2 linked regions of the Homo sapiens genome follow. The protein of the gene in region 2 purifies or fractionates together with the protein of the main gene of each other region. This does not show direct contact. Each region holds a gene or a part of one and is shown on either strand. Other genes may lie near its edges. The genes, in order: GUK1 and DPY19L2.

The links.
Region 1: the proteins of DPY19L2 (region 2) and GUK1 purify together in Homo sapiens (affinity purification with mass spectrometry; 2 studies listed by BioGRID and IntAct, with this or other methods). This does not show direct contact.

Annotation. Positions count from the first base shown.
Region 1 is NC_000001.11:228,133,712-228,149,569, reverse strand, and holds GUK1 (guanylate kinase), read right to left. Parts: upstream 9,292-15,858; 5' UTR 9,268-9,291; coding exon 9,207-9,267; exon of another isoform or gene 7,937-9,206; coding exon of another isoform or gene 7,741-7,936; intron 4,875-7,740; exon of another isoform or gene 4,818-4,874; intron 4,060-4,817; coding exon 3,946-4,059; intron 3,545-3,945; coding exon 3,503-3,544; intron 2,729-3,502; coding exon 2,632-2,728; intron 2,165-2,631; coding exon 2,026-2,164; intron 1,956-2,025; coding exon 1,871-1,955; intron 1,200-1,870; coding exon 1,114-1,199; intron 906-1,113; coding exon 873-905; coding exon of another isoform or gene 718-872; 3' UTR 619-717; downstream 1-618. UniProt on the Homo sapiens protein: Catalyzes the phosphorylation of GMP to GDP. Essential enzyme for recycling GMP and indirectly, cyclic GMP (cGMP). Involved in the cGMP metabolism in photoreceptors. It may also have a role in the survival and growth progression of some tumors.
Region 2 is NC_000012.12:63,612,195-63,628,879, forward strand, and holds part of DPY19L2 (probable C-mannosyltransferase DPY19L2), read right to left. Parts: intron 14,333-16,685; coding exon 14,275-14,332; intron 11,938-14,274; coding exon 11,846-11,937; intron 10,449-11,845; exon of another isoform or gene 10,090-10,448; intron 9,144-10,089; coding exon 9,044-9,143; intron 6,035-9,043; coding exon 5,957-6,034; intron 5,197-5,956; coding exon 5,110-5,196; intron 3,972-5,109; coding exon of another isoform or gene 3,898-3,971; intron 102-3,897; coding exon of another isoform or gene 56-101; exon of another isoform or gene 1-55. UniProt on the Homo sapiens protein: Probable C-mannosyltransferase that mediates C-mannosylation of tryptophan residues on target proteins. Required during spermatogenesis for sperm head elongation and acrosome formation. Also plays a role in acrosome attachment to the nuclear envelope.

The sequences.
Region 1 (15,858 bases), on a different chromosome or scaffold from region 2:
CCCACCCATCTGTCTACACCCCACCCCAGAGGCACCTCACCTAGGCTCAGAACAGGGCTGGGGCTGACCCTAGGGGTGGCTGGCAGCACGGCCCTGTGCTGCCTTAGACAGGCAAGCTGGGGGAGCACTGGGGAAGGAGGGAGGCAGCCTGAGCAGAGGAGGCTCCTCACACACCACACACAGCCCCTGGGGCAGCTAGGGGAGGGGCATCTCCCTCAGGGAACCCCTTAGACCTCGAGATCTAGAACCTCCAGCTGCCAGAGCTCAGGGGCCTCTCCTGGAACCTCTGGCCCATGCCAGACCCACAGGGTCGGGCACCAAGAGGCAGCCCTCAGGGCCCACCCCTGCAGCCTCAGGCTGCCCCATGCAGCCGCTTCCTGCTCCCCACTTGCCAGCCTGCCAGGTGGGTTGGGACCAGCCCTGCCACCTTCCCTGCCTGCCAGTCAAGCATCATGCTGCCCTGGGGCAGCAGCCACGAGCCGGCAGGCAGCAGATGCCTAGGCAGAGGCCATCTTGTGGCCCTCCTTGGGGCTGGTGGTTAGGGTGGGCTGCCGGAGCTCAGGGCCCGATCGGGATGATGGGGCCCCACCAACCTTGGGGCCACATTCCACTCATTTATGGAGTTTCTAATCCAACAGTTATTTTATTAGGATGTCAGCCCTGGGTCCAGAGTGAGAGATAGGGACAGGGGACAGCCCAGCGAGGCTGGGTCGGGGGTCACCCCAGGATGTTCCAACCACAGGGGCAGCATCTCCTCCACTCCACATGCTGGCCAAGGGCACAGAGCTGCCGTATCGCCTGCCAAGGGGGTGGCTCAATGCTGCTGCCCTGGTCCTGTATGGGCCCGGGGTGCCGAGAACAGACAGCAAGCCTCAGGCGCCGGTCCTTTGAGCTTTCTTGATTTCCTGCCAGTGAGGAAGAAAGGGAGTTGGGAGGGCTGGTATCCAGGAAGGGCTGGGCTTCCTGCTCTCCCTCCACCGTGGACCTCGGTGTCTCATGCCAGTGCTTGGGTAGGACTGTCCCATCTAACCTCAGTGGCCTCATGGACAACAAAGGCCTGGCCCCCAGGCCTCCCCTTGGGCCTTGCCCAGGTAGGCACAAGGATGGGCCCACCTCAGAGAGCGCCTCCTTCAGCTCTGCGTAGGCCTGGTCCAGGCTGTCGTTAATGATGACCACATCAAACAGGCCGGGCTCCTTGCCTGTGGGTGGGGCCTGGGGTCAGGGCACAGTGAGCCCATGCAGCCCCACCCCAGGTCCCACACGACCCCCAGAGCAGCCCACTGGCCTGCGGCTGTCCTCACTGCGGCTGTGGGACAGCTTTCCAGCCCAGCCGGGCCTGTGCAGGGTAGGGAAGGGCCGCCCCCTGGGCCTCAGTCCTCAGGCACCACTCCTGCTCTCTCTGGAGCCCCAGAACTTGGGTCTGGACACCAGCACCCATCAGGACTCTGGTTAGGGGCTACACTATCCTCTACACACACAGCAGAACATTAAATGCCCTCTTCTTGTGGGCTGCAGTCAGACCCAGAGAAGAGGCAACAGCTGTAAGAGGATGCACATGACACCCCCGGGGCTAGAAGGTTGGGGACATCTCATGGGACCCTGGGCGATGGGGGGTCTGGGGGCCCTCACGGAGACTCTGGGTAACAGAGGGAAATCTGAGGACCCTCAATGAGACCCTTGGTGACTGGGGGTGGGTTCTGGGGACCCTCACGGGGACTCTAGGTGTTGGGAGGTAGTTGAGAGGTCTGAGGACCCTCACAGGGACTCCAGGTGTCAGGAGGTCTGGGGACCCACAGGGTCCCTGGTGCCACAGACCTCAGAACCCTGACTCCCCTCCTGGCATTCCCTGGTGATCCCACGGCACACTCACTGCTCTCCATGTCGGCCTGGGCAGCAGCCAGCCGCTTCACCAGGCTCTCCTCGGTTTCAGTGTTGCGCTGCCGCAGCCGCTGCTCCTAAAAAGGGGGTGGCAATCAGAGCCTGGCATGCCCTGGCCCCCAGCCCCCAACCCTGCCCAGCACACACCAGCACGTGCAGTGAAGGCGGCTGCACAGAGATGTAGATGGGCCGCAGATCGGTGGCCTTGATGTTCCGCACACCCTGCAGGTCCACGTCCAGCACACAGATGCGGTTCATGGCCTGCACGGCCTGCACCGCCACCTTGCTGGGGAGAGGTGCCAGGTCAGCAGGGGTGCCAGGGCTCTCTGAGGCCTACAGGAGCTTCAGGGACACCCAGGCCCTCCCGGGCCCAGCGTTCTCCTCCCACAGCTGAGCCTAGGCCTGGCCTGGACCCAGCACCCGACAGCATCTCAAACCTGCTACCCCCACGCCCTGCCCCGCCTACAGGGAACAGAGGCCACCCACTCCCCAAGGTGCCTGTAGTGAGCATGAGGTGTCCTGTGCACCCTTCACCCTGCCAGGACAATGCACGGTGGCAGGACCGGGCCCAGCAGCCTCATGAAAAGAGCCACTGTGGGCCACAGACGTGGGAGCCTGGCCCTGGGCCACAACCTGGCCACATTCATAACCATGGGGTGGGTGGTGTGGATGGCGGGCAGGCAGCAGGCACTACCTGGATCCCTGTTGCCAACAGCAACCCTGGGAGCCCACCCACACCCACGCATGGCCCACCTCGTGCCATACAGGTTCCCCGAGAACTCGGCATGCTCGATGAAGTCGCCGGCTGCTATGTCACGCTGCATCACCTCCCTGGTTACAAAGTAGTAATCTGGGGAAGAGGAGGGGCCATCCAGAGGGCAGACTGGACCTGCACCAGGGTGCCCAGGGCCAGCTGCCCCCAACCCAGGCATGCCTGCAGGCCCCTCCCACACCCACGACTGCTTTAGTCAGATCCTTGCTGGGCAGGAGACATCTGAGGACCCCTCAAGTGCTGCCAAGTGCCTGAGCCAGACACCATTTCTCACACTGTCCTCACTGATGGAGATACGAGACTGCTGGGTTCCAGTGGGGAGTTGGGAGTTGGTGGTGATGGGGTGGGGACTGGAGACCAACAGGTTCTGGGGGAAGGTGGTGGGGGAACTGGAGACCGTCAGGTTACAGAGGGGACGATGTGGTGGGGTGACTGGAGACCACTGGGTTGCACGGCAAGGGGCGGGGGTGCTGTTGGGAAGGGGGTCCCTTGTCTTGAATCAGGCAGGCAGAGTAGCCCTTTTTACCAGGACTCCAGAAGACAGCTCAAAAGTGCTGATAAGTGCCGAGTCCAGGACAGGGCTGGGGACAGCAGCACTGTGGCCGCCTCCAAGGTGGGAGGAAGACAGCCCCAGGCCTTGGCCGGCCTCTCACACTGTACCCAAGGAAGGCGACACCACGCTGTGGCGCTGACACCCTGATTGAGTTCACCGGCCCTTGGAGGCAAGGACCCATCTCACAGATTAGGGATTGATGGGGGCAGGAGACGGGCAGCACAGCCAACACAGCTGCAGGGCCCAGCAGCCCTGCCCACACTGGGGGTGCTCCAGCCATAGGGCCCCACCCCACTCACCTTTGCCGTTCTCCTCGCCGGGCCTCGGGTTCCTCGTGGTATCTAGCAGAGAGACCTGTCACCCATCGGGGGCTGCTCGGAGCCCAATGCCCCACCCAGCGTTTCCCTTGCAGTCCCGACAGCACTTGAGCCCCAGGATGCAGGCAGCCAGTGAAGCACACCACTGGGAAGGCGCAGGAGCCTACAAGGCGAGGGTTCTCCCAGAAAGAAACACTGTGGCCCAGTTATCAGTACTCAACAGACCCAGGGAAGGGAGACACAGGCACGCAGGACAGCAGGAGTGTGATAACCTCAGGTTCTGTGTGGGGGGGAGTGTGCAAGAGTTCGGACAGTCTGCAGGGTGGGTGTGCCTGTTGGGTTTGGGCTCCTGGCCTGCTCACGGTGCTAGGACTACTCAGCAGCCTTGAGGTCTACGCACCCCTCCACGAGAGCCCTGGACTCACGGGACACGCTGAAGCCAAAGATGCCGCTGTGCTCCTGGAGCAGCCTCTTCAGCAGGGTGCTCTTCCCAGCTCCCGAAGGCCCGCTCAGCACCACAGGCCTGGGGCCCGACATGCCTGGGGGTGAGAAGAGAGGCTGTGGATAGCAGTGCGGCCTCTAGTCCCCATCTGCTGAGCTGCCTCTGCCTTCCTGAATTCATGGCAGGAAAGGGCTGACCCAGGGATGGAGACATTGGCCTGAGAGTCTCCTGAGAGCCTGGGTGTTCTTCCCCCTGAGCTCTGCCACGTTGGAAGGGCCGGCATGCACAGGGCGGCCCTCAGACCAGGCTCTGGGCACACGGGAGACGAATGGAAGGCCGGCTTTACTGGGTTCTCAGCAGGGGAGCCCCCCAACTGAAACCCACTGACCCTGTCAGCCTCCCCAGGGGTCCCTAGCAAGCAATGCTGTCTACTCTGATGACACCCTACCTGGGAGCTGCCGTCCCCACCTGGTGGAGTCACCTCCAAGCCCTCTGGGAGCCTGCTCTGAGACCCCCACCCCACCCAGGAGTCCAGCCATTTGCTCCCATGCATGGTGCTGAGTGCTGGGCTGCTAGGTCTGGAATGGAAGTGTCCCTGTCCCCGCCTCTGTCCTCTGGTACCTTGCCCTGCAGATATGGTCTTGTAAAGATCTACTGAATCTACACCTATTCCAGGAACTTCTCATAGGACTTGGGACTCCTATCTGTGATGCTGGTAATGCCAGAGGGGGTTGGAGGCCTCCCTCCCAGCCCCCAAGGGAAAGGCAAACAGGATCCTAGCTTGGACACGTGGCAGGTGAGGGCCCGGGAGCTGGCCTTTGCCTGGTGGGAATCCTCCCCAAGAACAGGGCCTACCTGTTTGCTGAGGTGCAGCCTCTGTAGTCAGCCTGGGGTGGGTCTGTCTGCTGGACTGAGAGCTGGGGGTGCTGAGTCCCTAATCCCCACTACGCCTGCTTCTGGCCCCACCCTTCTAAGCCACGAATAAATCCCCAGGGGGCCTGGCCCTGGGCCCTTGCAGGGAAGCAGCCCCATCCACCTGCTCTGCGGCTGTGCAGGAAGGAAAAGACAGCTCCAGCTCTTGCCCCAAGACCTGCACCTGCCCTGCCCTCCCAGTCCACATGAGCTGCACACACAGGGCCAGGGCAGCGTCTTCGAGTTGGGATGGGGAGCAGAGCTGAGGAGTGGGGCCGTGCACTGCAGCTGTGTTCAGGGGCTGGGCTAGAGGGAAGCGGATGGACCCCTGGCCACACGCACACCTTGGACACAACTCAGGCGAGGCGTGAATGGCCTCCTCCTGTTTAGGGCACAGCCGCCTGTGGGCAGACGAGCAGACAGTGGGAAGGACCTGAGGATGCCCTCCTAATCCCCAATTTAGGCCACCGAGGTAATCTCACAAATGCACCACGGCTGCAACTCCATCATGCACAGCGACACCCACCACACACATGCCACTCCCAGGCACAAAGGTATGCAGGATGTGTGCACAAACCTACCACAAACACACACACATGCATGCACACACAAACACACACACAAATGCACGCACACCAAGCAAATGCACACACACCACACATGTGTACCTGCAAAGGTACACATGCACACGCATACATGTCATTGATCACAAACACACCGGACCCCCAGTTAAAAAGACTCAAGAGGAAGGGAACTGCAGGACACCCACCCAGAAGTCCATGTGCTCTCCATAAGGGATAGACTCCTCCCTCCTTACTGCCTCTTCTGGGCTTTTTGTCACAAGCACACATCGTTTTCATCTCACCATGCACCCCATGCCCTCCTGGCTCTCCCACCCGCAGAATTTGCCCCTGCGCTTAGCTCGGGCCTCCCCACTAACCTGGCTCCTGCTGCTCACCCAGCCCTGCCACCTCCTCTACGTGCCAGCCAACCATCAGCACGCACTGCAGTGGCCAGGGTTCTTTATCCATTCAGCTTCTCCCAGCCAGCGAGCCCTGCAACCTCCACAGCCTGGTTCCCATAATGCACTAGCTAGGAGCCCCCCAGAGTCTCCCACAATCAATGAGCCATGCCACTTGTGTGAATTTCTGGCCCCTGCTTCTCGCCAGGGTGGAAGGGGTACAGTTCTCAGGACACATCCAGCAATTGCTACACACCTACTTGAAGCACTGAGATCACAGAAATTATGACTTGATGGTATTATGGTGACTTTTCTAATACGAAGGAGAAAAAGTAAAGCTAAATCATGTGCTTCGAAGGACCCGATATGGGAGAGCTACTCAAATGGTCCTGTGGGCTGGACCCCATGTGAGCTTCTGTCCTGTTGCTCCACTGAGCTGGCCCTTCTTAAGGTCACTCTGCCCTGCCAACCCACAACCAGCATGGCACTGGTGGGCCTGACAGGGCTGCCCCAAGGCCGGTCCTGCCCTGTTCCCCCCAGCCCCTGGCTCCAAGCTCTTCGGGTCTGAACCTAGATGCTACGTGACTATAAACCCACACAGAAGGAAACACAGTGGTGACCTCCACTGACCAGGCCTCCCCTCCTCCCTCCTGAGGGAGCGCTAAGCTAGTGAAGTGAAGCTGGGCCCACAGGCAGAAGACACCAGTTCGCCCAGCTGCTGCCAGGCAGGGGTCCAGGCTCCAGCCTTGCCAAGGGCGTCGTCTGCACAGCTGTGCCTACACTCGCCCAGCACAGGGCACAAGGCACACGTGGCACATCAATCGCCAAAAACTCTGGGAGTTTTTGCGTCCTCAGAAGGGGGAGAGCCACACCTTCTGAGGATCCCACCAAACTACCACAAGACCCTGGTCTCCATCCCCTCCTCGGCCCCAAACCCCATCCCCGATGCCCAGGAATTGGGGAGCTCGTGCCTCACTTCCAACTCCCAGGAATGGGGGGTGCTGGAGTCCCACCTCTGGCTCCTGGGTTGGGGATCTCCCCCTTTCCTCGCAAGCAGCAAGTGGCAGGTGTGTCTCTTCACCACAGGGCCCTGACAACGATCAGACACCAACAGATGCAACCCAGCACAGAGCAGACAGCAGACGCTGGTGGGCCCCAACCCCGCCTGTTTCCTCCACAGGTGTTGCCCCTGCACCACCCTTACCCCGCCAAGCCCAGGCTCCCAGGCCTCCCCTCCTCCCTCCTGAGGGAGCAGTAAGCTATTGAGGTGAGGCTGGGCCCGCAGGCAGAAGACACCAGTTCACCCAGCTGCTGCCAGGCAGGGGTCCAGGCTCCAGCCTCGCCAAGGGCGTTGTCTGCGCAGCTGTGCCCACTCTCGCCCAGCACAGGGCACGAGGCACACATGACACACCAATTGCCAAGAACTCTGGACGGGCCAACACTCCGCTCTTCCTGGGTCCCCTGAGTTCGGCTCTGCCCAAGCGTGAGGGCACAATGAGCAGACTACTGGGGGCCCTGGCCAGCCAGAGAGTGCAGAGGGCAGACAGTGAGTGGATGCGGGCCTTGCAGAAGCACAGCCACACCACCACCGCTGGAGACAGGGCGGAGGCACAGGCTGCCTGCCTGCCTGGGGAGAGACCAGTGGCAGGGCGGTCACCAAAGCCACCTTCCATGGAGCACACCCAAGGGAGAAAACTGTGGCCCAGGCCTCAAGGCTCCTGCAATCTTGCGGTGGAAACCACGGAGCCTTTGCCCTGACCAGAACACATGCGCCAAAGGTGTCTTCCTGTGGGCAGAGGGAAGCATTCCAGCAAACATTCTGTGCTCTCCACTCTCACCAACCCACAGTCGCAAACTCCAATCAGCTGCCTGGCAAGAAGCCACACAACCCACAACTGTAAGGACCTGCCAGGCACGTGGTCTCCACAGGAGCTCCGAGATGGAAGGTCTCCTGGGAGCCGCCGGCGCAGATCCATGTTCCGGAATGGTCTCTGCCAGAACGCTCCCTGGACTGGGCTCCCATGCTGCCCCAGCAGCCGCTTTCCTGGAAAGGCACTCCCTGCTGTGGCGGCATAATCTCCTCCTTCTGGCTTCCAGCCATCCTAAGGACTGAACAGAGTCACCACCTTGCCCCCGGCCCACTGTTCGAGGAGATGCTAACAGAGGGCTTGACCTTCTGAGAACCGAGAGAATTCAGCCCCCGCCTGGCCTCTCGTAAGACACAAACCACCAGACGTGGGCCTGGGCTCTGGGCTGGGCCAGGTGGATGAAGGGGAGGCTGGTGGTCCAGGCGGCTGCTCTTGGCTGCAGGGTTTCTGGGCACACATCCGGGTAGCACGCATCCTGGCCTTCAGCAACCTCGTTTTAAATGGGACCACACCAGGAGCAGCCAGGGCGCTTTCATTTTCACTTTCTTTCCCCGGGGGGGACAGGAACATTCCTTTACCTCCTGAGGAAATCGGGCTCTTCCAGAGCCACAGAGGAGTGAAGGCCCCAGCCCTTCACGATGCTGCGCGGCTATGTTTGGGTCTGTCCATCAGGGAGAAAGAAAAACCGGCCGAGTCTTGCACAGGGTCCTCGACAGCAACCCCAGGTAAAGAGCAGAGCAAGCCTGAGACAGGAAGGGGCCATGAGCCCAAAGACAGCAGAGCAGGACCCAGCCCGGGGCCTCAGGACCGACCTCTTTCATGCAAAGACGAAACCGAGGCCCACCACACGCAGGGTCAAAATCAACTTTGAGGCACCTGCTTCCCACACCAGTCCTTACTGGGGCATACTTCTAAGGCGACGCTCAAGAATGGCAGCAGGGCAGCTTCAAGAACCCCAACCCGGACTCTGGCTTTGGAGAATCCGAACCCCAAATGCCACACCCATGCGTCGGGAAGGCCTGCTGTTTCCCCAAGTCCCCGTCTCTGCGCCGTGCCGCGGAGTAGGCAGAATCCTGGGAGCCCCGGAATAGCCGGCTCCATCCGCCCAGGACCCCAAGGCTTGCAGGGTGAGGTGGGAACCGGAGCGCACACCGCGCCGGGCCAGCGGTAGGGACTCCCAGCTGCTCTCTTTGGCGGCGCGCCCAGGTGTCGGGAAGACACCGAGCGCTCCTATACGCCCGGGGAGCAGCTCGACACTGCGATAACTGCCGGCCTGCCCAGCTCCTGAGGAGCGCCCCGCCCTCCGGGACCCGGGCTCCGCTGCGTTGCCAGCCCGTCCGCCCTCCAGAGCTCCCCCGTTCTCAGGGCCCACAGTTGAATGCGGCACAGGGCGTCTCGGCTAGGAGGAGATCCGGAGGCGGCGTGGACTGGGCGACCGCAAAGCGCAGGGACCGCTGCCGCCTCGACCCGAGTCACCCTCGCGATCGCGCTTGTCGTACTCACCGTCCGGTGGGGCCCGGCCCAGGGCGGCCGCAGCCAGCCCGGCCAGCGGGCGCCGCAGCATCCGGGGCCACCTCTTCCGCCCACTGAACCTACGTGACAGCGCCGCACCGGCCCACCTCCGCCCGCGCGCGAGACTGACGTCATGAGGCGACTGCCCCGCCCATGTCTCACTCGTTCTTCCCCGCCCCTTAGGGAAGTACTTACCTCAGTGCCTCGCTAGCCCCGCCTCCACCTGCGCTGGCCTGTCGCGACCGCAGGGGCGTTCAGCACAGCGCCCTCCCAGCCCGTCTTCTCCCGCTGCGTCACAGCGCCACGCCGGCCCGCCTCCACACAGCGCGAACTAACATCACGACCCGCCGGCCCCGCCCACGGCGTACTTGTCCCGCTTGTCACTCAGAGAAGTACCTCAGTGCAGCGCGGGCCCGGCTTTCATCTGCTACGTCACAGCGCTGCCTCAGCCCGCCTCCTCCCGCTTATGTCACAGCGCCGTTTCCGTCCTCCATCTACACTGCAGGGACCTAACTAACGAACGACTCCGCTAGCCCGTTCCAAACCGGCCACTCTCCAAAAACCATTAATTGGGGAATGTGGCCGGGCGCGTGGTTCACGTCTGTGATCCCAGCTCTTTGGGAGTCCGAGCCGGGAGGACCGCTTGAGGCCAGGAATTGGAGACCAGCCTGGGGATCATAGGGAAACCCCTTCTGTACCAAAAAATTTAAAAACTTTTTTGTGCCTGTAGTCCTTGCTACTCGGGAGGCTGACGTGGGACGGTCGCTTGAGCCTGGGCAGTCGAGGCTGCAGTGAGCGGTGTTCGTGTCACTGCACTCCAGTCTGTGTGACAGAGCGAGACCCTATTTCTTTCTTTTTTTATTTTTTGAGACGGAGTTTCGCTCTTGTCACCCAGGCTGGAGTTCAGTGACGCCATCTCTGCTCACTGCAACCTGGGCCTCCTAGGTTCAAGCGATTCTCCTGCCTCAGCCTCCCGAGTAGCTGGGATTACAGGCGCCCGCCACCACGCCCAGCTAATTTTTGTATTTTTAGTAGAGACAGGGTTTCACCATGTTGGCCAGGCTGGTCTTGAACTCCTAACCTCAGGTAATCCACCAACCTTGGCCTCCCAAAGTGCTGGGATTACAGGCGTGAGCCACTGCACCTGGCCACGGGACTCTATTTCTAAAAATTATTTTAAATTTTTAAAAAAGATTTATTGAAGGCTGGGTGCAGTGGCTCACACCTGTAATGCCAGCACTTTGGGAGTCCGAGGCAGGCAGATCACCTGAGGCCAGGAGTTTGGGACTAGCCTGGCCAAAATGGTGAAACTCTGTCTCTACTAAAAATACAAAATCAGCTGGGTGTGGTCGTGGGCCCCTGTAATTCCAGCTACTGGGGTGGCTGAGGCAGGAGGATCACTTGAACCTGGGAGGTGGAGGTTGCAGTGAGCCGAGATCAAGCCACGGCACTCCAGCCTAGACGACAGAATGAGACTCCGTCTCAAAAAAAAAAAAAAAAAGTATTGAATGTGAACTGCAGGAGAGCAAGAAAAAAAGTAAAACTTTAAAAAATACAACTTCAAAAAAATGTGTTGGGGCTGGGCACCATGGCTCATGCCTGCAGTCCCAGCACTTTTGGAGGCCAAGGCGGATGGATCACTTGCCCCGGAGTTGGAGACCAGCCTGGGCAACATGGCAAAGCCTTGTCTCTATTTTTTTTAAATACTAATAATAAAACAGTTTGTTGGACAAGGGATTGTAACCTGGAATACATGTGCTATGTCATACCATAGGTGCTGCATTGGGGGAGGTGGGCAAGGAGAAGCTTTTTAGGCAAAAAAAGGGGAAGTTCACTGTCAGAGGCAAAATTATGTCATATGTATTCATAGGTCTCGCTGGCTTTTATTCGTGATTCATGAATTGAGGCAGCCTTCATTCTACAAAATAGAATAAAAGCCCCTGCCTGAATTAGCCAGGTGTGGTGGCGGGCACCTGTAGTCCCAGCTACGCAGGAGGCTGAGGCAGGAGAATGGCGTGGACCCGGGAGGTGGAGCTTGCAGTGAGCTGAGATGCGCCACTGCACTCCAGCTTGGGCGACAGAGCGCGACCATCTCAAAAAAAAAAAAAAAAAAAAAAAAAGCCCCTGCCTGGGCGATAGCAGAACCATGGGTTTTGTAAGGTGAGGAGAACGAGGAAACAAGATAGAAAAATAACAGATTGATAACCTTAGCTTACTTCAGGTTACTCTTTTGTAAGGGTTAGAGAGAAGAAGGGACTTCCTTATTATGCCAACTGAGGAAAAACTAATCTGTTTTGGGATTTAGTTTCTTATGTAGTATTTAACATAAGTGATTTAATTTTGGTTTGGCCTGGTCTATTGGGACCTAGTGCAAGAGCTCGGTCCAAAACAATGGCCTCCCATGATTTTTTAAAAACAATTTTTACCCATTTTGATCAGGCTCTCACCTAGCTTGACCAAAACTTAAAAGTGCCTCTCTCAGTTACTATCAGTTTGGGTTTCTGGTCTCAACATGTCATTGATAGGTTACAGTGTCTTCATGATCATGCTTTTCTTTTCTTTCTTTCTTTTTTTTTTTGAGACGGAGTCTCGCCCTGTCGCCCAGTGCAATAGCACAATCTCAGCTCACTGCGACCTCCACCTCCTGGGTTCAAACAATTCTCCTGCCTCAGCCTCCTGAGTAGCTGGGATTACAGGTGCCCACCACCATGCCCAGCTAATTTTTGTATTTTTAGTAGAGATGGAGTTTCACCATATTGGCCAGGCTGGTCTCAAACTTCTGACCACATGATCCGCCCGCCTTGGCCTCCCAAAGTGCTGGGATTGCAGGCGTGAGCCACCATGCCTGGCCATGATCATGCATTTCTTTGAGTTTGTGTCATTCCAGCTGAAGAGGGACCATTTGATGTTCAATGGATGGTCACATGCAAACATTTAAAACATTTGAAAGGATACAACACACCAGGGAGACTACTATTGTGACTGTCAGGAGGATAATACCAAGGGTTTGGAGTATGTTCCTTAGCCAGAGTCCCTGTGAACCCAACCAACGAAAACTGAATAGATCAAACAATAAGCCAGATGGGGAGTCTACCCATTTTAACCAAGTAGCCTGTTTGTTAATTTTTTGCAGCTGAGTCTACAATACCTGATGTATTTACCCATGTGCAACAAGATGTGTCAGAAACCACACAGACCCCTTCCTGTTCAGCTAGTAGGTAATCTATGTAAAATTAAGGCAGGGAGTGAGAAGAAGTGGGTCTGGTTTGCTTTGATGCCAAACAGTTGCATCAGGGATGTTGCCAAACTTACCCACTAAGTAAACTAAAGGATCTGTTGGGTCATAAAGATGAGAGTCTGGCCTGACAGACCCGATATATTTATCAGGTAACCCACAGAAGCTACTGGTGTGAAATTCTAACTACAGCATTAGCCTGCCAAGTGAAAGAGATAGGCATGAGCAAGGAAAAATTGAGAGGGGCAAGAGGCTAGTCTTCTTTGGATATCTGGGGAAAAGCTTCACAATGTAAAATGGTCAACTTCTGGTCCTGATTTGTAATATGACTGTCTCTGATTATGACAACAGATGGTTTGGTGAACTCTGTATGGTCCACACGTTGGCATGAGACTTGTCCCTTGATGCTTACATCAAGTTGTCCAGCTTAGTAGCTTTGTTCTTAAGGTGGAGAGTTGTCAACATATGTTGGAGGAAACAAGAAGAATTCAGGGTCCAGTCCATTCTGCAGGTAGATAATAAAAACTCTAGAACAACAAACAAGGCTACAATCTAAGAACAAGTGTACTATAATGTTCTTTCTTCTGAAACATACATTTTCTCTTTACAGTTGCCCCTCATTTCTACCAGAGATAATCAGAGTAAGACTAATTTGTTTGCAAAATGTTTAGCCTCATCAAACTTGCCCTGCTTATTTAGGTAAGTTCAGTGAGAATAGCATCAACCACATAGGCTCTTTTAAGTTTGCTTGGGTGGAACTTTAGATCAGGAATCTCAAAATGAACTTTTAAAAATCTTTCGATGCTAGGAAGCCAGTGTAGATAGAATGCGTCTGTAAGTACTGCAGGCAAAGTCTGTATCTACAGTCTCAATTTCGATATCCCAGTCATAATATAACCAATATTTCCAATTGTGTCCTGTTATAAAGAGGGCAGATTCTCCTCCTCCTTCTTCCTCTTCTTTCTTCCTCTTCTTCTGTCAGGGCCTCACTCTGTTGCCCAGGCTGGAGCACAGTGGTGCAATAATAGCTCCCTACAGCCTCAACCTTCTAGCCTCAAGTGATCTTCCCTCCATCTCAGCCTCCCAAAGTGCTGGGATTAATCCCTCACTTTTGGGAGGCTGAGATGCCCAGCCAAGAGCAGATTCTATTGAGCATATACAAATAATTATTTTGTCATAAAAATAAGAATCCTCATGAGTAGTTTCTAAATTCTGGAAGGATCAGGTAGGGAGAAAAAAGCAATGTCTCCATTTTTGTTCACAAAGGTATGTTACCAAATTGCCTTAAGCTATAGATAGCCTAAAAGAAAAGGTTTCCCTAAATCTGAAAAACGAAAGAACCAGCAATATTTTTGAATTCTAAAAAGACATAGAAACCCATAATTCATCAGTCCATTTAGTCTTGTGTGATTAATTTTTGTCCTGCTTGATGTTGGGTTAGCAATTTGGTGAGTCTAGCTTTTCCCTTAGAGTTCTAGAAATTCTTACCCAGCCCAGTGGTATGATCTTAAAATGATCAGAAATCTGTACTTGTCAGAGTCTTTTCCATCTGTGGTGTCCTGATATAGAGATGTTGTCCACAGTTCCTAGCTCATAGTTCCCAGAACCATTGTTACAAAGCATGTTGGGTGCTTTGGGTCTCAGGAGACAGAATATTTCTGACCTTCTCTTTCACTTGCCCAAGGCAGGACTCTAATCTGATTGTGGATCAAAAGACCCTCATTCCAGAAAGGGTCCTTCGCCATACTCTGGAGGAAGGACGTGGACAGGTCCTGCTAGGTTTAGATCAGACTTTATTTTTATCCAATCGTGTTTGACACAGTTGTCCATGCTTCTATCATGGACAACCAATAAAGTATAGAAGGCCCACAGGACAGGATTTGGGGGGCATCCAGAGAGCTGAACATGTGGAGGCTGAGAGAAAGGTGAAGAAGAACTCATCCACAGGCTGGGAGGGTGTTGCACCCCAACTCCATGAGGACAGAAGCTCCTGCGCTTAGGACCCTTCCAGACTTCGCCCTATGCGTCTCTTCATCTGGCTGTTGATTTGTATCCTTAAAAATACCCTTCTTAATAAACCAGCAAACATAAGTATTATCTTCACCCAACTGCCGCCGCACTGCCATCATGGACACCAGCCACATGCAGCCTATCAAGCTGGTCAGGGTCACCAAGCTTCTGGGCAGAATGGGCTCTAAAGGACAGTGGTCGCAGGTGTGCATGGAATTTATGGAGGATGCGAGCCGCTCCATCATCCACAATGTAAAAGGCCCCGTGTGCGAGGGCGATGTGCTCACCCTGTTGCAGTCAGAGTCAGAGGTCGGGAGGTTGCGCTGAGCTTGGCTGCTGGCTGGGTCTTGGATGTTGGGTTCGACCACTTGACCAGTGGGAATGGTGTGCTGCGTTCTCCTTTATTTTATTCTTGGCCTGCCACGCAGGAATTGAGATGTGTCTTTAAATAAAGCATTTGTGTTTCAAGTTAAAAAAAAATTGGCTGGGCACGGTGGCTCAAGCCTGTAATCCCAGAACTTTGGGAGGCCAAGGCAGGCAGATCACCTCAGGTCAGGCGTTCAAGACCAGCCTGGCCAACATGGCAAAACCTCGTCTCTACTAAAAATACAAAAGCTAGCTGGGCATGGTGGCGGGCGCCTGTGATCCCAGCTACTCAGGAGGCTGAAGCAGGAGAAATGCTTGAACCCGGGAGGCGGAGGTTGCAGTGAGCTGAGATCATGCCACTGTACTCCAGCCCGGGCAATGGAGCAAGACTGTCTCAAAACAAAAACAAAAACAAAAAACAAAACAAAACAAGAAAACACGTTTCCCTGAGTTCCGTGAGCCACTCTAGCAAATTAATAAAACCCAAAGAGAGGGTTGTGGCACCCCCAACTTGAAGCCAGTTGGTCAGACGTTCCCAAGACCTGGACTTGCAACTGGTGTCTGGGAGTGTCAGGGGCAGTCTTGGGGACTGAGCCCCGAGCCTGTGGAATCTGACACTGTCTCCAGGTAGATAGTGTTAGAATTGAGTTGGAGGACACCTCGCTGGTGTCCACTGCCTGGTGTGTGGGGAAAAACCCTACACCTTTCGTCACAGAAGTCTTCTGTGTTGATTGTCATGGCAGTGTGAGAACAAAGGAAAAAACCCAATTTGAGAGAATTTTTCCCAAAGCACCAAGGTTTCCATGCATCTCCTTGAAGACACAACCACTTTAGGATTATAGTTGCTTGCAAAACACTTTTAGAAAAGCATGAGTATAAACTAATTAACTGTGAACAACCACACTTTAAATGGCCATGGGTAAAGATCTGGTGAGAGTGCCTAATAATAATGTCTCAGTTGACAAGGAAATTTAATTATTTCTGTGGCATACAATGATTTAACAAAATAACCAAAATCATGGCTAACATACC
Region 2 (16,685 bases):
AAAATGAAGGCAAAATAAAGACTTCATGACCAGGTGATTTGCACTAAAGGAAATGTTAAAGGAGGTCTTTCAGACAGCAGGAATACAGTAGGTCAATCTGGCTGTACACAAGTAAAATGCACCGAAAATGGTAACTACAGGGTAAATATATAACATTTTAAAAATTTCAAATACTTTTCAAAGGTAATTTACTGTTTAAGTAAAAACAAAAATTTATTGAGATTTCTATATCACATGTTTAAGTAAAATGTATGACAATAACATGAAATAAATTTAAAAATGTACTTTATCAAAATATGTGGGATGTTGATAAAGCAGTACTTTGAGAAAAGTTTATAGCACTAAACACCTGTGTTTAAAAACAAAAAACAAGAAAGGTCTCAAGTCAATGACCTTGCTTTATACCTTTAAAAAAAAAAAAAAGGACTAGGAAAAAAGGAGAGCAAAACCCAAAGTAAGCAAAAGAAATGAGGTAATAAAGAATGAGTAGAAATCAATGAAACAGAAAACAAAAGCAGTAGAGCAAATCAATGAAAACAAAAGCTCGTTCCTTAAGAAAATTAATAAAATTGATATACCTCTAACCAGACTGATCAGAAAAAAAAATAGAACACAAACATCTAATACCAGGAATGAAAGAGGAACTATCACTACAGATACTATAGATACATAAAAGAAATAAAATATTATGCCTTTGTCAATGAATTTGACATCATAAATAAAATTTAAAAATTCCTTGAAAGATACAACCAAAGTTCACTCAAGAGGAAATGGATAACACGAATAGCCTTATACCTTATTAATGAAATGGAACTTGTAGTTAAAAACATTCCTACAAAGAAAGTCCTAGATGGTTTCACTGGTAAATTCTACCAAATATTTAGGGAAGAAATCATAAGGATTTTACACAAATTCTTCAGAAAACTGGAGAAGAGGGAACACTTCATAACTCATTTTATGAGGCCAGCATTGCCATGATACCAAAAAAGACAAAGATGTCACAAGAGAACTATGAACCAATTATTGTCATGAACTTAGGTGCAAAATCGTAAGTACAATTTTAGAAAGCTGTATCCCACAAAAAATAATAAAACAGCATGACCAAAGTGAGGTCTATTCAAGGAATGCAAAGATGCTATAACATTTGAAAATCAACCAATATAATGCAGCACATTAACAAAACAGAAAAGAGAAACTATATGATATCATATCTTCGAAATTCATTTTTGAAAAAACTCAGCAAGCTGAACAGAAGGGAACTTCTTTAAGCTGATAAAGGGCTTCTCTGAAAAATCCTATAGCTAACACAGTTACTTAAGGATGAAAGACTGAACAATTAAACAAAACTTACATTTCAAAATGAGCCATTTAAAATAAGATATTTTAAAATACTAAAATATGTGAAAGAATGACACAAATCAAAATTAGAAAAACTGAGAAATGAGCTGACAGAAATCAAATAATTTGAAATAAAACAAAAATAATTTCAGACATAAAAAACTAGAAGGAATATGAGGAAATGAACATAATAATAATGCCTTAAGAGCTATAAAAGGTGAAGAGAAGAAACTTTTAGAAATAAAAAAAGAAATAAGATAAAAAGTATTCAAGAGAAAGTGATACGTTTATAACGTATCAAAACTTGTATAACTTTTAATAGCAACCCTTTTGGACAGAAGTAAAACAAGTTCTCAAAGCAAAAAATAAAAGAGACAGCTGGGCGTGGTGGCTGACACCTGTAATCCCAGCACTTGGGAGGCAGAGGCAGGCAGATCACCTGAGGTCAGGAGTTTGAGACCAGCCTGGCCAACATGGTGACACCCCGTCTCTACTAAAAATACAAAAATTAGCTGGACGTGGTGGCAGGCGCCTGTAATCCCAGCTACATGGGAGGCTGAGGCAAGAGAATCTCTTGAACCCAGGAGTTGGAGGTTGCAGTGAGCCAAGACTGCACCATTGCACTCCAGCCTGGGCAACAAGAGCGAAACTCCGTCTCAAAAAAAAAAAAAAAAGAAGAAAAGAAAGAAAAAGTAAAAATAAAAGAGACAAGAATTTTACATAGAGCCAACTTCACTTTCAAGTAAAAGGTGACAAAACAAACTGACAAACACATCAGAATTGAAGGAATTCTCTTGTAGAACAAGACTAAAATAACCAAGATAACTGGGAGATAACGACATAAAGACTGGTGATAAATAAATGCATATTTCTTCACATAAAAACATGAAATAAGGTTGATAAGGCAGAAAGTACAGTATGCAATACTCTGTTCTGACAATATAGATACAGAATTAGTAAAAAAAATAAAATGGGTGAAGAGAATGAAAGAAGGATATGCAAAAAATTCTTTATTTCTCATAATCATGTGCGTGGTGCAGTATAGCAATTCTCATGCACACACTTTGGGAGAAGGCAAATGGATATATGATATTCTATCATCCCCTGGCTTCTTGAGACCCACAAGAAACAAAAGCAAATACAGGATAGAAAGAGTTAAGTAAAAACCCTACATTCTTGAATTTGATTTGGAAATACCCATCAGAACTTGTGAGCTAGTTTACCATAAATGCATGCACACACACATATTTTCATGGTAGATTTTTAAAGAAAGAGAGCCTGCAACCTATAATATTTCCTAGCTCTGCCCACTAATAAGGCCTAGAAACAATGACCTACTCAGTATCAATGAGCATCCTTGGGTCCCAGACTGCGGTCTTAAAACACCATTTCCCCAGTAAAGGCAACGAGGGTGCCTTGCAGGAATGGCTTCCTCCAGGTTTTGGGCAGGAGTACACAAGAGAGACCTGGAAAAACTTGTCATACATGACACAAGTATGCTATCAGACCACGAGTGTCATGTCAGAGAACTTAGTAGAAACCTAAAGAGGCTCCCCTGGTCAACAAAGAAACAATCTGAGAATGAGTAAAGATGTTAATTTCAATTAACTTGAAATACATAAAAAATGTTTAAATCCCTATGTTCCTAATGAAACCTAAACACACATATACACAGCCCAAAGAGCCTACATTTGGAAGATGACAGGGAATCAATTCATTATTTTTAAAACTTGCAAATAAAGAGGTAAATCAACATTTACTTTACTTCTCCTAAATGAACTTTAGATGACAGATTAGAATGTGACCACTTTGCAATCCCTAATGAATTAACAGAGCCAGCATAAGGCACTGAAGGCTAGTACCATAAAGAGAGACATTATGTGCCTTTTAATGAAAGAACAATACTAAAGACTTGCAAAAGTGATCAAGCCTGAAGCAATCCAAGTTTCAGATCCAATTTCTAATATATCAAGCTATACCATGAGACAAAGGAACATGCTTAGCTACACCACAGGAACTCAAAAAGCAAAATCTGGACCATGAAATCCTCCACATGTTCTATGACTGTGGTTCTTCAACAAATAAATTTCATGAGGATAAAACCAGGCAGATATGCAGGAAACTTGTAGCTAAAAAGAGAAACTTAAGTGATGAAACTATAAAGGAATGCTGGAAAGTTACTATCATAGCAGTCAAGATAGTCATTATCGTTTTAGGGCAGTACAAGGGAGTGCTTTGGGACAGGTCACATGGAGGCTTCTACACTCATTTAGAGAGTTATAATTTTGATATAATGGTAGTTTAAGAATGTTTGCCACATAATACATAACACAGTCAGCCCTCCACATCCATGGGTTCCAGTTGCTGCAGATTCAACCAACAGCAGATAGAAAATATTTGAAATAATAATAATACAACAGTTTAAAAAGTACAAATGAAAAAACAATACAGTATACAACTATTTGCATAGTATTTATATTGCATTAGACGTTATAAGTAACCTAGAGATGATTTAAAGTATATAGGAAGATGTACATAGATTATATGCAAATAACACACCATTTTATATAAGAAACTTGAACATCTGCAGATTTTAGTATCCACAGGGGTTGGGGGTGTCCTGGAATCAATCCCTGCAGACACGAAGGGGACATTGTACTCATCAGTATTAGCCAGCACTAAGTCAGCACACAAAACATTTGCTTTATGCAGTTTTATCTGTACTATATTTCAAAATAAAAAAGTTTTCATTAAAAGAGGTAGATGAGCACACTATTAGGAGTCCTCTACTCTGTAATGGTGAAATAGTTTGACAAAATGTTGGAAAGAAAGAGCATTTTTTCTGGGAGAGAAAGAGGAGGGATTACTATGAGGGAAGAAGGATACGGAAAGCAAAAATGTTAAAACATAAGGGCAATCCCAAAAGATTAAATCACTGCACCATACATGGAAAAGTGCTATATTTTGGCATTACCGTAGTTGGTATCATTTCTGATCAGTGTGGAGATGGGAGGTACAGGAGAATATTCTAGGTTCTGGCTTATAGATATCAGAAGTATAACTACAATGTAATAGAACTGATTTACTAAACCACCCTTCCAAACACATATCCAAAAGAGTGTCATTCCATGTAGTTCCCGTGAGGAGACTGCACACTTATTCTAATTATCTTGCCATCACTCAAAGTAGTTTGGAACTACACTTTCTAAACTGCCTTCAGAAATAATTTAGTTATAGGTGCAAAATAATCGGTCTTATGACTTTACTGTCACACCATCGTTTGAGCAAGATCTGTATTACCCAGCCCAATCACACAAAATATTCACAAAATTTTGGTCATTTCCAAAAATCAAATCCACTCTTGAAAGGCAAGACATACTAAAGAATGTGCCATAGTCTGTGAAGGAAACTCAGAGGAGTTCCAAAAATGTTCTGGGCAATGGCAGTGTCACTGCAATGAGTACTTAACCTCCTCAAGTGACTTAGGAGAAAAGAAGTCATTTTTATCATAAAATGGGATATGATTAAAGTAAGTCTTATTACTTTATGATCATTTTTAAATATTTACTTGGGCACTGTCTTAAAAAGAAAAACTTCCTACTATAGTATTTTTCAAGGATAAGACAGATAAAAAGCTTTGCTTGGGAAGAATTTTGTCATGTTGAGTGATAATCAGGAAAGGGCCTATTTATTCTCTTATACCTGTTTTAGACAGGAAAACATGCTATTTGGCAGGTTAAAAAAAACCAACTTTATGAACTAAACACTTACCCACGTCATTAACAAAGATGAAGAATAATAAGAAGATAAGTACATTGAATTTCCAAACATCAAAATGAAACTAAGGGTAACTGAAATCTGAAAAAAATGAAAAAAATACATTTTATGGTTATTACATATATTGGCATAATGCATATTTTGTAGGTATATAGCCATTTCTAATGCAAATTTATTTGCATAAAGATGAATGACTCTTGGCCAAATGATAACAGAATTTCAAGTCACTGCTAGATTCTAAGTATTAAAATTCAAGACCATAAACTCTATCTGGCAGAATTTAACTTTTTCTCCATCTGCTACTTGGAACAATGAAAAATAAGTCTATGATTTCTATTGTTTTAACAATGGAGTAATATAATAAGAAAGACTTAGTTATAAATACCAGTTTTACTAATCATATTTTTGTTAGACTTCAGGACTTCTATTATTTATGAAGCTTTACTAACTTTTTATGTTTTTAAGGAAGCTATGTTTGGGACCTAAGCCAAAAACAAAATTGCAAGAATATAAAATTTCAGTTAGAGTGTCATATTCAGGCAAAATGCTAAAAATCTCATGTCTGAGAAAGAAAAGGCAGTTTTAAAAGTAGTAATAATAATAAGTAAAACAAAAATAAAAGTTCTAGAGAATAAAACACATCTACAGTCCAGTTGAAAGTATAATCTGTTATAATATGTCATCTATAATATACATTTCCAGTTTTCCTTCTGGATATCACCAATACCATATGTATTAAATATTACCAAAGAGGAGGTACCGTATAAAACAGAATCACTTCGATTTTATAAACTCTGAGAACCTATCTTAATATTTGACTTATATATATTAAAAATGTTACCATGTTCATATAAATGATCTTCTGAAATTTGCTTGGTTCAATGTATCCCACAACATACATGGGAAATAATGATGCTATCTGAAATAATATAAAAAAGCAAAAGTGAAAAAAAGTATAGAAAACTAACACTTTACTATTCACAGGCAAAGTAAATATAAGAGGAGGGCTACAGTTCTAATAATGGTAAGCAAAGGAATTTGAACCAACCTTCCCACTAAGAACTAGAATGGCTAGGAAAAATATAAATATATAAATAAAAATATTTTTTAAATACGTATAAAAGCCACAGACTATTAACAAAGCAAATGCAGAATTAAAAAGATGGATGGCAATCTATACCGATGAGCATGACATTTTAGGCCACTTTTCTCCCAGAGGTATCTGCCAATTTCAACAGAGGCAGATGCCTTCCAGCTGAGAGGCAGTTGGAAGACCAACAAGCTGAGCAGGCATTTCAGCAGATTCAGCAGAGTGCACCAAGAAGGGTGCTTTAGTTTGGAGTTTCAAAAGGCCATACTATAATAGTGAACCAGAAATCAAGCAGCCCTCAGAAAGACTGAAACCCATCTACGGATCATCTCAATCTGATTGCATAAAGGTGGTTCAAGATTTATCAGTGCTTTTTACTCGCCTCTCCAATTTTTCATGTATGATGTCCAGCACCACATCAAAAATAACCCAACATAGATGGAGATAAGACACTATCACTAACATGATAGAAATAGATCCACAAAAGATTTAGATCAGGGATCAGCACATTTGTTATATAAAAGGCCAGATAATAAATATGTTATGCTTTGTTGGTCACATACAGTCTCTTGTATATTCTTTTTCTATTTTTGTTCTATAACCCTCTAAATATATAAAAATTATTCTTAGCTTGGAGATCACTCAAACACTTCTCTGGCATAATCAGATATATCTTTAAACTATGCTTCAAATGTTCAAGGAAATAACTGATAGGATTGAAAATTCCAGGAGAGCACAGAAGTCATAAAAAAAAAATTGGGCCAGGCATGGTGGCTCACGCCTATAATCCCAGCATTTTGGGAGGCCAAGATAGGAGAACTGCTTGAGCCCAGGAGTTCAAGAGCAGCCTGGGCAAGATGGTGACACCTCATCGCTACAAAAAATTAAAAATTAGCCAGATGTGGTTGCACAATTAACTAATTTTAACCTTAATCTACGAAAAACACAATTAAGAATAAAATCTTAAAGTACTTCCAGAAAATAACATTGAATTATCCCTCTGTAAGCATGAAACACACACATACAAACAAAACTATATACATTAGTAAAGAAAAATGAAAGCCTAGTATATATCCAGAGAATGACTAGAAAAACATTAACAGCAATATCAAACTTCTTTTTTTTTTTTTGAAACTGAGTCTCACTCTGTCACCCAGGCTGGAGTGCAGTAGTGCAATCTCGGCTCACTACAACCTCCACCTCCTGGGTTCAAGCAATTCTCTGCCTCAGCCTCCCAAGATTACAGGAGCCCACCACCATGCTCAGCTAATTTTTTTGTATTTTTAGTAGAGATGGGGTTTCACCATCTTGGCCAGGCTGGTCTTGAACTCCTGACCTCAAGTGATCCACCCGCCTCAGCCTCCCAAAGTTCTGGGAGTACAGGCGTGAGCCATCACACCCGGCCCCAAAGAGCTTCTTAGTTTCATCAGTATCACTGGATTAATAAATTTGCTTGCAATGAAATGATGCTCATTAAAAATCTATTCTACTCTGTTGGCATGTGCAAATAATGAAAACCATAGAATAATGTCTGTGTTATAACCTGAAAGGGGCCAACTTTTATGAAGTTAAACAGACGGAATACTTTAAACATGCAGCACCAATTGAGCTGGGGTTATAATTTCATTCTTTGTAGGCTATTGGCAGCATGAGACTTCTTGGCAGAATTTCTCACTTCCAATATAGAATATTATTATTATCATCAGCATTTGTTATGTAGGAAGGAGCTCTGATGGAAAATCTTAGTATCATGAAATGTCATCAAAATTCTCCATTTACTCTCTGCTTCCCCAGTTCAGTTTCTTGTTACTAGTTATGTAGTTGCTTTAGAAACAGGATATGGGCTCAGCTCACTTAAGCAATGATGAGCTTTATGATTAAAGCTCACAGAAATGGTTCCAGGTAAAATTCTGCTATACAGACAAAACAGCCAACATTCAGCTGAATTAGAAGCAGAACGTCCTGCTGTGAAGAGCAGGATTGGCCCTTGGCATGCTGTGTAGCTTGGCACCCAGAATGATTCCCAGGACAAAAGGAAAATCTATAGGTAGATATATACAGATATTATCTCAAACACCAAAAATAACATTTGTGAATAAAAATAATACAAAAAGTCTTTCACATGCCGAGCCTTAAAATCTGTCAAACTAACCAATACAGTAAAAGAATGTGGAATTATATTATTTCATAAAAATCATACCTTTAAGTAAACTTTATTCCCTATTTTGAAAATCTTTTAGGGCGTAAATGTAACCATATTTAAAAATTTATATGGAAACAACCAAGTACATCTTGCGTTCAACTTAATTAATATACGCAAAGGAATATAAATCATTCTATTACAAAGACACGTGCACCCATGTCTTCATTGCAGCACTATTCACAATAGCAAAGACATGGAATTAACCCAAATGCCCATCAGTGATAGACTGGATAAAGAAAATGTGGTACATATACACCACGGAATACTATGCAGCCATAAAAAGGAACAAGATCAGGTCCTTTGCAGGGACATGAATGGAGCTGGAGGCCATTATCCTCAGCAACAGGAACAGAAAACCAAACACCACATGTTCTCACTTATAAGTGGGAGCTGAACAATGAGAATACATGGACACAGGGAGAGGAACAACACACACTGGGGCCTGTCAAGGGATGGGGTGGGGAAAACATTAGGAAAAACAGCTAATGCATGCTGGGCTTAATACCTAGGTGATGGGTTGATAGATGCAAAAACCACCATGGCATACATTTACCTACATAACAAACCTGTACATCCCGCACATGTACCCCAGAACTTAAAATAAAAATAAAAATTAATTTAAAAAATCATCTTACCTGTGTAAAAAGTATAAACTGAGCAAATTGCCAGGGAAGCATAAAAGCAACATTGGAAAGACAGAGTGCAATGAAGGGCCTTCTATCATTGCTTGAGGTCCTTAATAGAGAGAATTGATACCAGTAAGTTTCACCCTAAAAATGGGCTGTCACTGAAAAGAAAGACTAATTGCAAAATGATAAAATCTACATTATTCCATTACCTTTACTATAATACAACAAAATATAGTTAACTTCTTAAAGTATACTAAAAAGAACTTGAAATACTTCATTCCTTGCATGAAGCAATCAAAATTAGAGTTTTAATATTAACATTGTAATTTACCATTAAATATTTTAAATACAAAAGCTCTTTTTCCTCTACATATGCATGACATTAGAAATTTATTACTCCAGCAAGGAGGTCAGAAAATAGGATGCAGCACTGCCCCTGCACACCTCAACATGCTTCTCCTGTATGTGTAGCAACAACTTTTATATGCCACAACTTTTGTGCTTCAAAAAACTTTGAAGAGAAATATAAGTGCTGACAAAGTAATAAGTTAAAAACTATGGGAAAAATTTAAGGAGAAGGAATCTTAAAAAATTAAAAAATCATTCTAGAATTCAGCTGAAGCATGTGGAAGTTTAAATTGTCCATTCTGCATTACTGAGATGTATTGGGAACCAATACCTTTTACCACAGAGAATTACAGTAACTTTTAGATATGAAAAAAGAAACACAAACATTTTACATAAATAGTAAAACTGCAACTCTTCCTTTTATAAATTCTGTATTGGATTTTGATGAATCTTTGTACAATCGTATATAAATTTTCAAAAACAAAATTCTAAATGTTCATATTGTTTACTAATATTATCATAAAATACTCATTATGTACTTTGTAATCTTATATTTTTCAAACAAAAATTACTTTTGACTAAGACACAGAGTATAGCACATGCCCTCAATGATACAACCCTAAATGTTCTAATTAAGACATTTTATTCCATGAAACCCCTGACTGACCAGACTGATATCACTTCAAAAAATAAAAATAACCCACCTTCCTAGGAATTAAACTGGGAATGAATAGCAAGGGGTGATGAAGAATGGGCAGCTTCCATCACCTAATCTTTGAGAGAAGGCAAAGTGTAGAGCAAAGATATAGAAATCTGAATGAGGAGGAGGTTCCTAAATCCAAATTCAACCGCAGAATATACTTGTCAGGTTGGTAAGAAATCAGAAGTTAGCCTGCTCCATTCTCAAGGTTTGTGCCACCCCAGTACACTACTATTTACCACTCTTCAATTAGCTTTATCTGAGTGCCACAAATATTTGCATGGACGTGTGCAGTGTTCTGTGGTTAAAGAGATAAATATGGCATGGTCCCTGTTTCCAGTGGTACTTTTAAATACATATAATTGGCCGGGCACAGTGGCTCACACCTGTAATCCCAGCACTTTGGGAGGCTGAAGCAGGCAGATCACTTGAGGTCAGGAGTTCGAGACTAGCCTGGCCAACATGGTAAAACCCTGCCTCTACTAAAAATACAAAAATTAGCTGGGGATGGTGGCGTGCACCTGTAATCCCAGCTACTTGGGAGGCTGAGGCAGGAGAATCGCTTGAACCCGGGAAGCAGAGGTTGCAGTGAGCCGATCGTGCCACTGCACTCCAGCCTGGGTGACAGAGCAAGACCTCATCTCTAAATAAATAAATAAAAATTTGTGTATGTGTAGACGATTCATAAATTTACTGTTTTAAAAAATAAGGAAGACAAACAAATGACTTTTATATAAGGCAGAATCTCCCAGGGACTAGTAGGTGAAGAATGGGGTCCTCTGGGAGTTTGGAGGAGATAGTGATCATTATTTCATTCAGTGAGAGTTCTCATTAGTATTCTATCAAACTTATTTCTCTGATAAGGTTATTTATACTATTCTACCACTTATGGGGTTTTTTGTTCATTTCTCAGACCTCTTAAATATCTAAAATGCTTATAAATGTAATCCCTACAAAAAAAGTGTATCCAAAAAAAAAAGTTTGAAATGAAACTGGTTGTCCTGTTAGAAACATTGGTTGTTCAGAAATGCTTCATAAATATGTGAATATATATACTCCTTATCCATCTAACTCCGCATTTCCCAAATTCATTTGCACACAGAACACTTTTTTCATGGCACAGTTATCAAAACCACAGGTTAGAAAACAATGTCAGAGTACTTAAACTGTGAAGAGAAAATGTAATTGTTTCTCAAAAACTTTTGAATCTTGGCAAACTATATACAAACGCATACCTTTTGGTTTATTAAAACATAATGTAGTTATCTAAAACCTGTAGCCTACACTCTTAAATGGAGAGCAATTTTTACATAGCAATTTTGAATTATTTTCTTAACTCTATACTCAATTTACTTTTAAAATAACTAAAAAATGGTCTAAATTTGGTAATTACAACTTCATAGATTGAAGTGTATATATGTAATATATATATTTACATTTTTTTAGAGGGAGTCTTGCTCTCTTGCCCAGGCTGGAGTGCAGTGGCACAATCTCGGCTCACTGCAACCTCCACCTCCTGGGTTCAAGCAATTCTCCTGCCTCAGCCTCCCAAGTAGCTGGGATGACAGATGCACACCACCATGCCCGGCTAATTTTTGTATTTTAGTAGAGATGTGGTTTCACCATGTTGGCCAGGCTGGTCTCGAACTCCTGACCTCAAGTGATCCACCCACCTCAGCTTCCCAAAGTGCTGAATTGAAGTATATTTTAAGAAACTTAAATTATAATTTATTTGCCTTCGTTTTATAAATCGAAGTTACCTGAGAATCAAAGTTAAAATACACATCTGAAGTACAAGGAAAGGATAGGAAAAACTTTCACGGAGAGGTGGTGTCCACATCACACGGGTGGCCTGAAATCAACAAAATGCCCACTTTACATCCTATTTACTACAACAAACATATTAAAAAACCAGGGGTGAGTTTGTTTTAGTAATTTTAATACTAGGCTCACTAGATCCCATTTCTGAGTGTCTGGCATAGCTTCTCAGTTTTTGAAGCTCTCTTAACTCATGAGGCCATTATGTAGACAGCAATTAACTACCATGTCCAGAAACCAGCAACAGATATATCAGACCGAGCAAAAGGAAACCCAAGGGACAAACAAGATTGTACGTATAAGAGTTGTGAAAATTCTGGAACTGACCAACTAGATCCACAGCCCAGCCCTGCAGTATGATCCTGGCATATGATCCTGGCATCCCAGGCTTTGGGATATATGCATGCCAAGACAAATAGCTAAACAAATGTCACCTAGGTCATTTGCAAGCACCAAGAGAGTTTCTACATAACAAGTAGGAATGAATATAAATACACACTTCGAATAGCTAGGATTGCCTCAGAATTTGTAAAATGTACCGTAAAAAAAGGTTAAGTATATATTTTAAAAACAACTAGAAGTATTTGGGAACTACAAATGTGATGCAAGTAATAAAGGTATTAAATTTTCATACGAACTTTAAAATTACTTCTAAGACATATGGGTCAGAGTATTGGAAAAATTTTCCATCAAAAATTCTGAAATTCTAGAAAGAATGTGAACTCTTATTACTTTGCAAGAGTCTTAAAAGTTATTGCTTCTCTTCCAAGATACCAAAATTGTAAATGTTGGAAGAGGAATTATGATACATATAAGAAAGTCAACTTATACCAACAGTTGTCTGGAACACTCAGAGAAAAGCCTTTGTCTTTATGTCAGCACATTGTTGAATGACAATGCATTTGTTTGCTTTAAAATAATATATATAAGGATTTTATGTATAATTTTTATGATTCCTTTATCTAATTGATTTTTAAAAATTAACCCAAGAGCAATGGATAAAAGTACTTCTACCCTGGCTTGGCATGGTGGCTCACGCCTGTAATCCCCAGTATTTTGGGAGGCCAAGGTGGGTGGATCATGAGGTCAGGAGTTCGAGACCAGCCTGGCCAACATGGTGAAACTCCATCTCTACTAAAAATACAAAAATTTAGCTGAGCATGGTGGCACATGCCTGTAATGCCAGCTACTCAGGAGGCTGAGGCAGGAGAATTGCTTGAACCTGGGAGACAGAGGTTGCAGTGAGCTGAGATCACGCCACTGCACTCCAGCCTGGGTGACAAAGCAAGACTCTATCTTGAAAAAAAAAAAAAAGTACTTCTACCCTATGTAACCTGTGACATAACATATTAAATGTATTGCTCCCAAGAGCTAGTAGTCAGAATCTCTCTCTTTTTCAATGCCATATCCTCAGCATCTAGCAGAGCATGGACATGGTATGTACTCAATAATTTGTTGAATGAATCCATCATATTTGAAATAAGCTTCTATGAGCTCTTTTTTAGGTGGACTATGTTTCATTGGGCTGAATTAGTAAGTTAATGTCTATTTTGAATTGAGCATTTTGCATTACTGAACAGACAGCATGATGTAACAGAAAGAAGTGAGGGAGCAGGTGGCAGTGTCTTAACTGTGTCCCTGCTGTCAGGCCTGAGGCCTCTTTCATTGTTGTTAAGGGGAGTGCAATGTATACAAAGTTTCAGTTAGGCAAGATGAATAAGTTCTGGAGATCTGCTATACAACATTGTGTTAATACTATATTGTATACTTAAAAATCTGTTAAGAGGGCAGATCATATGTTACTTATTCTGACCACAATAAAAAGTTGAATATATATGTTATATATATATAATATATAAGTTTTTATAAAATATAACTATAATTTTATAATTTATAAAATATAAATTAATATATATGTGAGGTTTTAGAGGCAGACAGATATAGAATGGGAAATCCAGCTTCATCATGTAGTAAATGTGGAATGTGGATAAGTAACTTAACTTTCTCTAAATTTAAATTTCATAACTTGTATGGTGAGGCTACCACCACCCACAAAAAAAGTTTAGTGGGAATAAATCAGATAATGTGCATGATATGATTCAACTCAACAAGTACAATATTTCCTTTTCTCTACAGAATATATGTATATGTATATATTTACTAAAAATAAGGCAAGAGATTTCATGTTTGAAATTCTAGCTATTTAAACATTTCAATCAACATGCTTAAAATATCAACTTATTACACAAGGGTCTTTAAAATATTGTGAAGTCATAAGTAGTATACAATTAAATATTGTTTTGATGAGTATATTTCCTTGTTCCTCTACAGCCTCTTCTATTTCTTAAAAATTGCTTTCTAGAAAACAAACCTCTCCATGGTTGAAAAAGAAGCACAGTACTGTAATAAGACCTCCCAGTTGAGTCCCACTGTAAAAAAAAAACAAAAAAAACAGAGAATACAATCAAAATTCATGTAAAATACAGTGAGTTTTTCACAAAATTACCTCAGAATTTAAAATCACAGTTTTCTATATTTAAAACATCATAGTACTAAACCATACCCATGTGGTTGAAGTTTAAATCCTGAATGTATAATTCTAAAAAGTGTACGTATAAATTAATCTCAATTGTATAATTTGTTATAGCTAAAATACTTTCTAAATAAAATACATAAGGTGTGAACATAATTTTTTTTTTGAGATGGGATCTTGCTCTGTTGCCCAGGCTGGAGTGCAGTGTCGAAATCTCAGCTTACAGCAACCTCCGCCTCCTGGGTTCCAACGATTCTCCTGCCTCAGGCTCCCAAGTAGCTCGGATTACAGGCGCGTGCTGCCACACCCGGCTAATTTTTTTACTTTTAGCAGAGACAGGGTTTTACCATGTTGGCTAAGCTAGTCTCGAACTCCTGACCTCGTGATCCACCCGCCTTGGCCTCCCAAAGTGCTGAGATTACAGGCGTGAGCCACTGTGCCCAGCCACATAAAATCATTTTTAAGAAACAGACTAGCACTTTAGAGTCTAGATCACATCCTTTGAATACTCTGAATAAAAGCAAATTTTTATCTTTTGAAATTGGATTTAAGGGACTGAGAGATGAAGATGAGATTCTAACAGTTTCATGTAGCATTAACTTAGAACTGTCTAAACTACTGCAAATATTCTTTACTTGAGTCCCAGAGAAGCAATAATGCAGAATACAAAAATCAGATGAAAGATAAAAACCATTTCTTTTGTTGTTGTTATTGTTGTTGTTGTTTTGTTTTGTTTTGAGACAGAGTCTTGCTCTGTCACCCAGGCTGGAGTGCAGTGGCGCGATCTCGGCTCACTGCAACCTCTGCCTCCCTGGTTCAAGCCGATTCTTCTGCCTCAGCCTCCCGAGTAGCTGGGATTACAGGCACATGCCACCACACCTGGCGATTTTTGTATTTTTAGTAGAGACGGTGCTTCACCATGTTGGCCAGGCTGGTCTCAAACTCCTGACTTCAAGTGATCCGGCCACCTCAGCCTCCCAAAGTGCTGGGATTACAGGCGTGAGCCACCGCACCCGGCCAAAAACCATTTCTTAAATTGCCTTTTTGTGATCATGTCTGTGTATGAGAATGCAGATGCTCAATCCCACATCTGTGTAGCGTTTCTATGCTTCCATTTATCTTCCCTCCATACACCACTTCCCTAGCCTAACACATTCTAAGCACCATGAGGACAGGGACAGGTTCTTTATCTGTCTTGTTCATTACTATATCCCCAGCTTCACACTTGGAAGATTAATAAATACTGGTTGAATTAATGAAGAAAGGAAGAAAACAGCAGAGGAAAGCTCATGGGAAATGATTTACCATTTAATAAAGTTTCACTCAGAAAATACAAAGGATGAACTTCAAAGAGGAAGAAATTGAAAGAAAGAATGTGTGAGTAGCAAGGACCAATTGTCAATGGAGGAACTGGGGAAATGTGGATAAATCAAAGTAAGATGAGTTGGTGAGGGGTGGAGCCAAGATGGCCGAATAGGAACAGCTCCAGTCTACAGCTCCCAGCATGAGCGACACAGAGGACGGGTGATTTCTGCATTTCCAACTGAGGTACTGTGTTTATCTCACTGGGGATTGTCAGAAAGTGGGTGCAGGACAGTGGGTGCAGCGCACCGAGCATGAGCCAAAGCAGGGCAAGGCATTGCCTCACCCAGGAAGCGCAAGGGGTCAGGGAATTCCCTTTCCTAATCAAAGAAAGGGGTGAAAGAAGGCACCTGGAAAATCGGGTCACTCCTACCCTAACAGTGCGCTTTTCCAACAGTCTTAGCAAACGGCACACCAGGAGATTATATCACACACCTGGCTCGGAGGGTCCTATGCCCACGGAGCCTCCCTCATTGCTAGCACAGCAGTCTGAGATCCAACTGCAAGGCGGCAGCGAGGATGGGGGAGGGGCACCCACCATGGCCAAGGCTTGAGTAGGTAAACAAAGCAGCCAGGAAGCTCGAACAGGGTGGAGCCCACCACAGCTCAACGAGGCCTCCCTGCCTCTGTAGACTCCACCTCTGGGGGCAGGACGTTGCCAAACAAAAGGCAGCAGAATCCTCTGCAGACTTAAATGTCCCTGTCTGACAGCTTTGAAGAGACTAGTGGTTCTCCCAGCACGCAGCTGGAGATCTAACAACAGACAGGCTGCCTGCTCAAGTGGGTCCCTGACCTCCGAGTAGCATAACTGGGAGGCACCCCCCAGTAGGGGCAGACTGACACCTCACACAGCCGGGTACTCCTCTGAGACAAAATTTCCAGAGGAA